2 linked regions of the Homo sapiens genome follow. The protein of the gene in region 1 interacts with the protein of each later gene in a biochemical or structural test. Each region holds a gene or a part of one and is shown on either strand. Other genes may lie near its edges. The genes, in order: IPO5 and EIF4E.

Region 1 (3,825 bases):
TCTTTTGGTAAACGTTAAGAAAATAAGACTTTTATTTTAAGAGATGGTGTCTCACTCTGTCACCTAGGCTGGAGTGCAGTGGCGTGATCAGGACGCACTGAAACCACAACTTCCCAAGTAGCTGGGACCCAGGTGCACAACACCAAGCCCAGCTAGATTTGATTTTTTTTTTTTTTTTTTTTTTTTTTAAGAGATAAGGTCTGCCTATGTTGCCCAGGCTGGTCTCAAACTCCTGGGCTCAAGCAGTCCTCCTGCCTTGGCCCCACAAAGTTATGGGATTACACACCTGAGCACTGTGCCTGGCAAGACCTGTCTTAATAGATTAGAGAACCACTGATAGATGGTCAGCTTTCTGTAGCAGTGAGAACCCTACATTTCAAATGTGGATAGCACCTTTGCGGGGAAACATCACTTGGCACATCTGCATTCTTTTTTGACACAGGGTCTCACTCTGTTGCCCAGGCTAGAGTGCATGGCACGATCTTAGCTCACTGCAACCTCCACCTCCCAAGTTCAAGCGATTCTTCTGCCTCAGCCTCCTGAGCAGCTGGGATCACAGACATGCGCTACCATGCCCAGCTAATTTTTTGTATTTTTTGTTTGTTTGTTTTTGTTTTTAAGTAGAGACGGGCTTTCACCACGTTGGCCAGGCAGGTCTCGAACTCCTGACCTCAGGTGATCCACCCACATCTGCGTTCCAATATCTTTCTCAACATAATGATAGCCGTAATTAATATTTTCCAGTACATTTTTATGCCTTTACACACGAGAGTGGTAGACAGACACAAACCCAGATCTGTCTGACTCCAAAGCCCGTTTGTCATCATTCCTTTTACGGTATCCTATAGTGGTATCCTTTACAGAAGACAGCTTTTACCCAACAAAGACTTAACTTCCCAGGATGCCAGAGGACAAAGCGGGATTGCTTTTAAGAGGAAGTTATCAAGACCTTATTTTATAAATGAGATTAGATAGGGAAAGGCAATTTAATCTTTATTAAAAACTGAAAAGGCCAGCATAGGAAGAGGTCCTCGGTGGTCTTTTTCAGGGAAATACTTCAGTTGCTTTTATTAGAAACAGATAGTACCTAAGGTTTTGAGGTAGGTACAGCTTAAGGCATGCTAATGGTCATGGGTCCTTCCATAGTCATTTTTGTATTTTGGTTTACATTTGAGCAATAGGCAGCCCTTCACTGCTGCTGGACTCATTCCTGCCACTATTACAGGTGACAGAGGAGACAGGAGGTATGTCTTTTCTATTTTTATACATGCTTTATATTTAACACAAGCTCTTGGGTATCTTAGATAAACAGAAGTTGCCTAGCACTCCTTTTAGTGCATTGAACCCTTTAACATTTAAGCAAAATAATAAACAGTCTTTTGAGGTTCCTTAACAATGAAACGTGTTCGAGTGGCAGCAGCGGAATCCATGCCTCTTCTCCTGGAGTGTGCAAGAGTCCGTGGTCCTGAGTATCTCACACAGATGTGGCATTTTATGTGTGATGCTCTAATTAAGGCCATTGGTACAGAACCAGATTCAGACGTCCTCTCAGAAATAATGCATTCTTTTGCAAAGGTGAATATTTTTCTCTTAAAAAATATGTATAAGGTTGTATGTTCATTTATTAGTCTTGCTAAAAGTAAAAAAAAAAAATTTGAGACAGGGTATTGCTCTGTCACCCAGGCTGGAGTGCAGTGGCGCAATCGCAGCTCACTGCAACCTCCACCTCCTGGGTTCAAGCAATTCTCATGCCTCATCCTTCCAAGTAGTTGGGATTATAGGCATGCACCACCACACCTGGCTACTTTTTGTATTTTTAGTAGATGTTCCTCAGGTCTCAAACTCCTGGCCTCAGGTGATCCACCTCGGCCTCCCAGAGTGCTGGGATTGCAGATGTAAGGCAGCTAAATAAATTTTTATATGCTATAGTGTATGATTTGTTAAAAAATAAAAATGTTAAATTTTTTGTTTTAATATTTTGGTATTATTATGTTTGTTTTAAAGAGGGTAAATTTGCCTTGGAAGGGCAGTATAGGTAGAGGGAATGATATGGGCAGCAGCATGGAAGCATGCATTCTTTGGAAAAAGAGAAGAAATTCTGAATACTCTAGTATTTTAGTCTTGCACTTAATAATCCAACTATAGAAGCTTGGGTATCATCTCCAGTTTCTGTTCTTTACACTTTCCTCAATTCTTCTCTTTTTTTTTTTTTTCATTGCCCCATCTCTTTTTCATGCCATTGAAATAGCCTCACTTGGGCTACTCCAGATGTCTCCTTTCTTTTCCTCTCAGTTCATTCTCCTTTCCTCAAGCACTGCCTTCCTCTTCATTGAGTCACTTCCTTTCTCATACAGTGTCACTCCCATTTTGCACAACTCTAGTTTGCTCCAATCTTGATTGAAGATTTACAGTTTCTCAGCATCTTTATATGTCCTTATTTACACTCCTGTAATTCAGAATTGCTTCTGATTTTCCAAAGACAGCATGCTTCCATACCTTTGCCTATATTTTATTTCTTCTACCTCTAATGCCCTTCCTTCAGTGTTCTTGTATGTTGTGTGTACGGAGTATGGATATAGCAATTGTGTTCCTTAGGAGCTGGTTGTGTGTGTGTGTGTGTGTGTGTGTGTGTTTTCCATCTTTGAATCCTCAGTACCAAGCATGATGCCTGGCACCTAGGTATGCTCAGTAGTGTTCAAAAGAAAATATTTTTTTCTAACTCCAATCTCTAAAATGCTGTCATTCTAACAAATACAAGCTAAGCATATGTAAATAATCTTCCAGGATACTGAACTGTGTTCATTTTTCCATATGATTCTTAGTGGAGTTTAACTTTGGACTCCAAACACCCCAAATCTTATGGATTGCTTTCTTTCCTCAACCTCATTAGTGCATTGAAGTAATGGGAGATGGATGCCTTAATAATGAACACTTTGAAGAACTGGGAGGTATATTGAAAGCAAAGCTTGAAGAACATTTTAAAAATCAAGAATTACGACAAGGTAAGTTTTCCATGCTTTTATTTCTGAATATAATCCTTGACCATCTTGGCAATCATTTAAAACATTTATTTGGGTGTGTTTTAGTTAAAAGACAAGATGAAGACTATGATGAACAGGTCGAAGAGTCACTACAAGATGAGGTAAGTTATTCCCTTTGGAACTTACTTACGTGACCACTTGCATCTGAAAGACTTGTAAATGCCTCAATTTCTGATTTATGTGACTTGTCATTCTGATGTAATTATCAGTCTTTAGCAGAGGAGTCAGATATATTTCCTCTCTTAATTTATGAATAAGTAATTTGAAATTAAACTGATATGTCTTTCGGTGCTATGTGCATTTTGTTGTAATACCTCACTCAACAAAACACCTTGAGGTTTACCTAGTTCATTTACATACTGCTCACAACAACCATTTGTATTTTGTGGTGCTTTCACTATATTAAAGATGAGTAACCTAAAATTCCAGTGTTAAATGATTGCCTAGAGTCACACTGTTGACGGTCTGGGGCCTTTTTCACCATGTTACTTAGTTCTCTCATCAAACCACCTAGGACTGTCAAGCATACTTCATTGTGTGTTTAGAGTCCAGCATCTCATATGTGGCCACTTGGTGGGCCAGTGCTACCGTGTAGGTAGTACCAGCTTCCTGAAGGTGCCCACATGCTTGTAGGCCCAAATTGCCACTAACAGCGAGACCCCATTCTCCCCACCATCCACCCCGAAATGAGGATTATTCTGCTGAAAACAAAGTAAAAATAGTGAAAACACCTTTGTTTCAGAATGTAGAAATTAGAGATAATTTTTCAACCCATCTATTTTAA
Region 2 (3,825 bases), on another chromosome or scaffold:
TGACTACTCACTTTTTAAGGTATGCTTAATTGGTGATTTTATATATTTATTATAGGACTGGGCCATTTGGTATTCATTAAGAAATCTTACCATAAACTTAGGAATATTTGATAGTGTGATGAATAGGCTGATAATTTAATTGGCTGTAGTATGCTTTAGTATCAATATATCTTATTCTATTTGTTTATAAAAATTGAGAGAGAGTTACTCTGTGGGCACATACTGAGATTGATTTTGATGAGAGCTTTGATTATCCAGTCTACTCCTTCCTTTATATATTTGAGCAGACTGAGTTTATCAAGCATTCTTAACCTTAGGAGCATGGGTCCTTGGAATACTTATTATTGGGCTTTGTCAGTTGGTAGAGGGACGGGACATTCATTAACTGAAATTGCATAGTTTTTGCATGTATTTTCTAGCTGTAGAAATGTACAGAGCTTCTAAAATATGTTTGCTTCTCAGAAAGTTTAAGAACCTTCAAATTAAGTGAAACCCAAGATTTGATAGCTAATAAGTGACAAAGCCAGGACTCTAATTCTGCAATGTCATGCCTCTGGCTTTAAGTCTTATGTGCTGTTTAAAAACTACATCAATGGCAGTTTTATGGGCAATAAAGTAAGAAGTTGACAGTGTTGTTGCTTAACTGTTTCTAATGATTATCTCTCAAAGTCAAGGTAACAATGTTGTGTAATACTGTTGTCTTCTAACCCTGTAGGATGGTATTGAGCCTATGTGGGAAGATGAGAAAAACAAACGGGGAGGACGATGGCTAATTACATTGAACAAACAGCAGAGACGAAGTGACCTCGATCGCTTTTGGCTAGAGACAGTAAGGTTTTAAAAGTATAAAGCAGTTTTAGAGGTAGTTTTGGAATACTGATACTTAAGATATGTTATGTTTTACATTTGTTACTTAATTTAAGAGAAGGATGCCCAACACTAGAAAATCAGGGTCAGTAATTATTTTTGTTCTGTCATATGACTCCTGTTTATAGTACAGTGAAACATCCTACCACATTATAAGTCAGATATTTTAAGTGATTGGCAGTTGACTCTCACCACAGTAAGCTCACTGTGGTCATTTCATTAACCTCAAAATTATAGAACCTTACATTTTGTATGATTGAAGTTTTTGCAACCCTCTTACAGCATTGCTATATGTATACTAAACTTTTAAATACTTATATTTTTAGAGCGAGGGTCTTGCTCTGTTGCCCAGGCTGGAGTGCGGATATTTATTTATATGGCTCATTTCAGCCTCACCCTCTGGGTTCAAGTGATCCTCCCACTTCAGCCTCTTAAGTAGCTGGGACTACAGGTGCATGCCACCATGCCCAGCTAATTTTCTAATTTTTTTCCAGAGATGGGATCTTGCTATGTTGCCCAGGTTGGTCTCAAACTTCTGGCCTCAAGTGATCCTCCCACTTCAGCCTCCCAAAGTGCTGGAATTACAGGTGTGAGTCACTGTGCCTGTCCCACTAAACTTTTTAGATTAGTGAAGCAAATAATAAAATTGTTGTGTACTACCATTTGACCTACATGTTGTGATATTAACTGGAACTTCTGGCTTTACAAGACAAATTAAATATGAGATAATAAGCATTTTCTGTAGACAGAGGTTCCAAACCCCAAGCTTATAGGAGCGGGGTTTGTAGTCTCTTTTGTATCCCTAGCACTTGAAACCGTGCCTGGTTTATAGTTAGCACTTGTTAAGTTAATCACTTTAAATGTTTGAATAAGTGACTATTTTGCTTTTTTTTAGAGACAGGGTCTTGTTCTGTCGCCCAGGCTAGAGTGCAGTGGGGCCATCATAGCTCACTGTAGCCTCCTGGGTTCAAGCAATCATCCTGCCTTAGCCTCTCAAGTAGCTGGGACTACAGGTGCATGCCAGCACAGCCAGCTAATGAATGAATGACTTTTTAAGAAGAAAATTCTGTTTTTGAGGGGGAAGATCATGAGCAAATACCATTTTTGAATTCCACATTAAAAAGTCAGGACATTTCCATTTTGCAGTTAAAAAAAATCTTCTGGAGATGGATGGTAGTAGGGATGGTTGTACAACAATGTTGAATGTACTTAACACCACTGAACTGTACACTTAAAGGTGGTTAAAATGGTAAATTTTATGTTATTTGTATTTTACCACAATTAAGAAATCTGTTAGGGCTGGGCTCACACCTGTGATCTCAACACTTCAGGAGGCTGAGGCAGGCATTTCACTTAAACTCAGGAGTTCAAGACCAGTTTGGGCAACATGGCAAAACCCTGTCTCTACAAAAAATACAAAAATTAACTGGGTATGGTGACATGTCCCTGTATGTATGCCCACCTACTCAGGAGGCTGAGGTGGAAGGATCATTTGAGCCCAGGAGGTTGAGGCTGCAGTGAGCTGTGATGATCCCACTGCACTCCAGCCAGGGTGACAGAGCAAGACCCTGTCTCAAACAACAACAACAACAAAAAACCAGACCATTAACAAATATTCATAAAAAATAAGAACAAGAGGAGATTAACCATGAATAGCTATTTTTATTATTCTATTAATATTTGTTTGCTCATAAATATAAGCAGCAGCAGAGCAAATGAATATTAATAAAATCAGCTTTTATGTCTGCCATGACATTAACTGCCAAATTTGCTGAAAAAGGCTGATTTGATAGTAAATAAATGAATGAGTATTTAAAAGTCAGGACAGATCAATATATGCAAATAAAATTTACACATTTAAAAAATTAACTCTTGATTTAAAAACTGCCTTTAGTTTCTATGCAAATACAGAAGAGACATTTGCAGTGTAATGAGCTTGTTTATAATCTATTAAATGTAATTTGGGATTTTTTTTTAAGCTTCTGTGCCTTATTGGAGAATCTTTTGATGACTACAGTGATGATGTATGTGGCGCTGTTGTTAATGTTAGAGCTAAAGGTGATAAGATAGCAATATGGACTACTGAATGTGAAAACAGAGAAGCTGTTACACATATAGGGTAAGTTTTGCTCTTTGCCTACTTATTTTACAGTATTAAGATGAGTAAAACCAGAAGTTATTTTATTTGTAGCTTTAGAAATACTTCAGTTTGTAGATCCTGTTTTCCTTGTATTGTTTTCGTGAACACTTTTATAATTTTGAACGGCTCAATTGGTGCGCAACGTCTTGTTTTTTTGGGTTTTTTCACAGCTATTTATTTATTTATTTATTTAGAGATAGAGTCTCACTCTGTTGTCCAGGCTATATATAGTACAGTGGCATGATCTAGGCTCACTGCAACCTCCGCCTCCCGGGTTCAGGAGATTGTTATGTCTCAGCCTCCCGAGTAGCTGGGAATACAGGCGCATGCCACCATGCTTGGGTAATTTTTATATTTTTAGTAGAGACCAGGTTTTGCCACGTTGGCCAGGCTGGTCTTTTAACTTTTGGTCTCAAGTGATCCGTCCACCTCAGCCTCCCAAAGTGCTATCATTACAGGCATGAGCCACTGCGCCTGGCCTTTTTCATATGTTTTTTATTTCTGTAAAATTGCTTTTTCTTAGCAGTGAAGTATATAACCACTAGAGCACTCTCCTTTGGCATGTAGCATTTTTTATTCATTCACAAATGAGAATGTATTATTTCCTACTTTGAAAGTGCTGTTTGGAAAAAAGTACTACTTTGAAAAGAGCTAATGTATGCTCATAATAATAATTCAGTGATTATTGGCAAATAGTATATGTGCATTTAAAGCATGTGTGTTTACTACGTATAATTTTCATTAAAATTTATATAACATATCTTGGTTTTTGTTCCATGTTTAAAACCCACATATGTAGGGTTTTATTAAACCTTTTT

What was found.
Region 2: the proteins of IPO5 (region 1) and EIF4E form a complex in vitro, tested with the Homo sapiens proteins (one study listed by IntAct).

The regions. Positions count from the first base shown.
Region 1 is NC_000013.11:98,012,640-98,016,464, forward strand, and holds part of IPO5 (importin-5), read left to right. Parts: intron 1-1,402; coding exon 1,403-1,575; intron 1,576-2,890; coding exon 2,891-3,002; intron 3,003-3,086; coding exon 3,087-3,142; intron 3,143-3,825. UniProt on the Homo sapiens protein: Functions in nuclear protein import as nuclear transport receptor. Serves as receptor for nuclear localization signals (NLS) in cargo substrates.
Region 2 is NC_000004.12:98,884,083-98,887,907, reverse strand, and holds part of EIF4E (eukaryotic translation initiation factor 4E), read left to right. Parts: coding exon 1-19; intron 20-715; coding exon 716-829; intron 830-1,361; coding exon of another isoform or gene 1,362-1,454; intron 1,455-2,846; coding exon 2,847-2,986; intron 2,987-3,825. UniProt on the Homo sapiens protein: Acts in the cytoplasm to initiate and regulate protein synthesis and is required in the nucleus for export of a subset of mRNAs from the nucleus to the cytoplasm which promotes processes such as RNA capping, processing and splicing.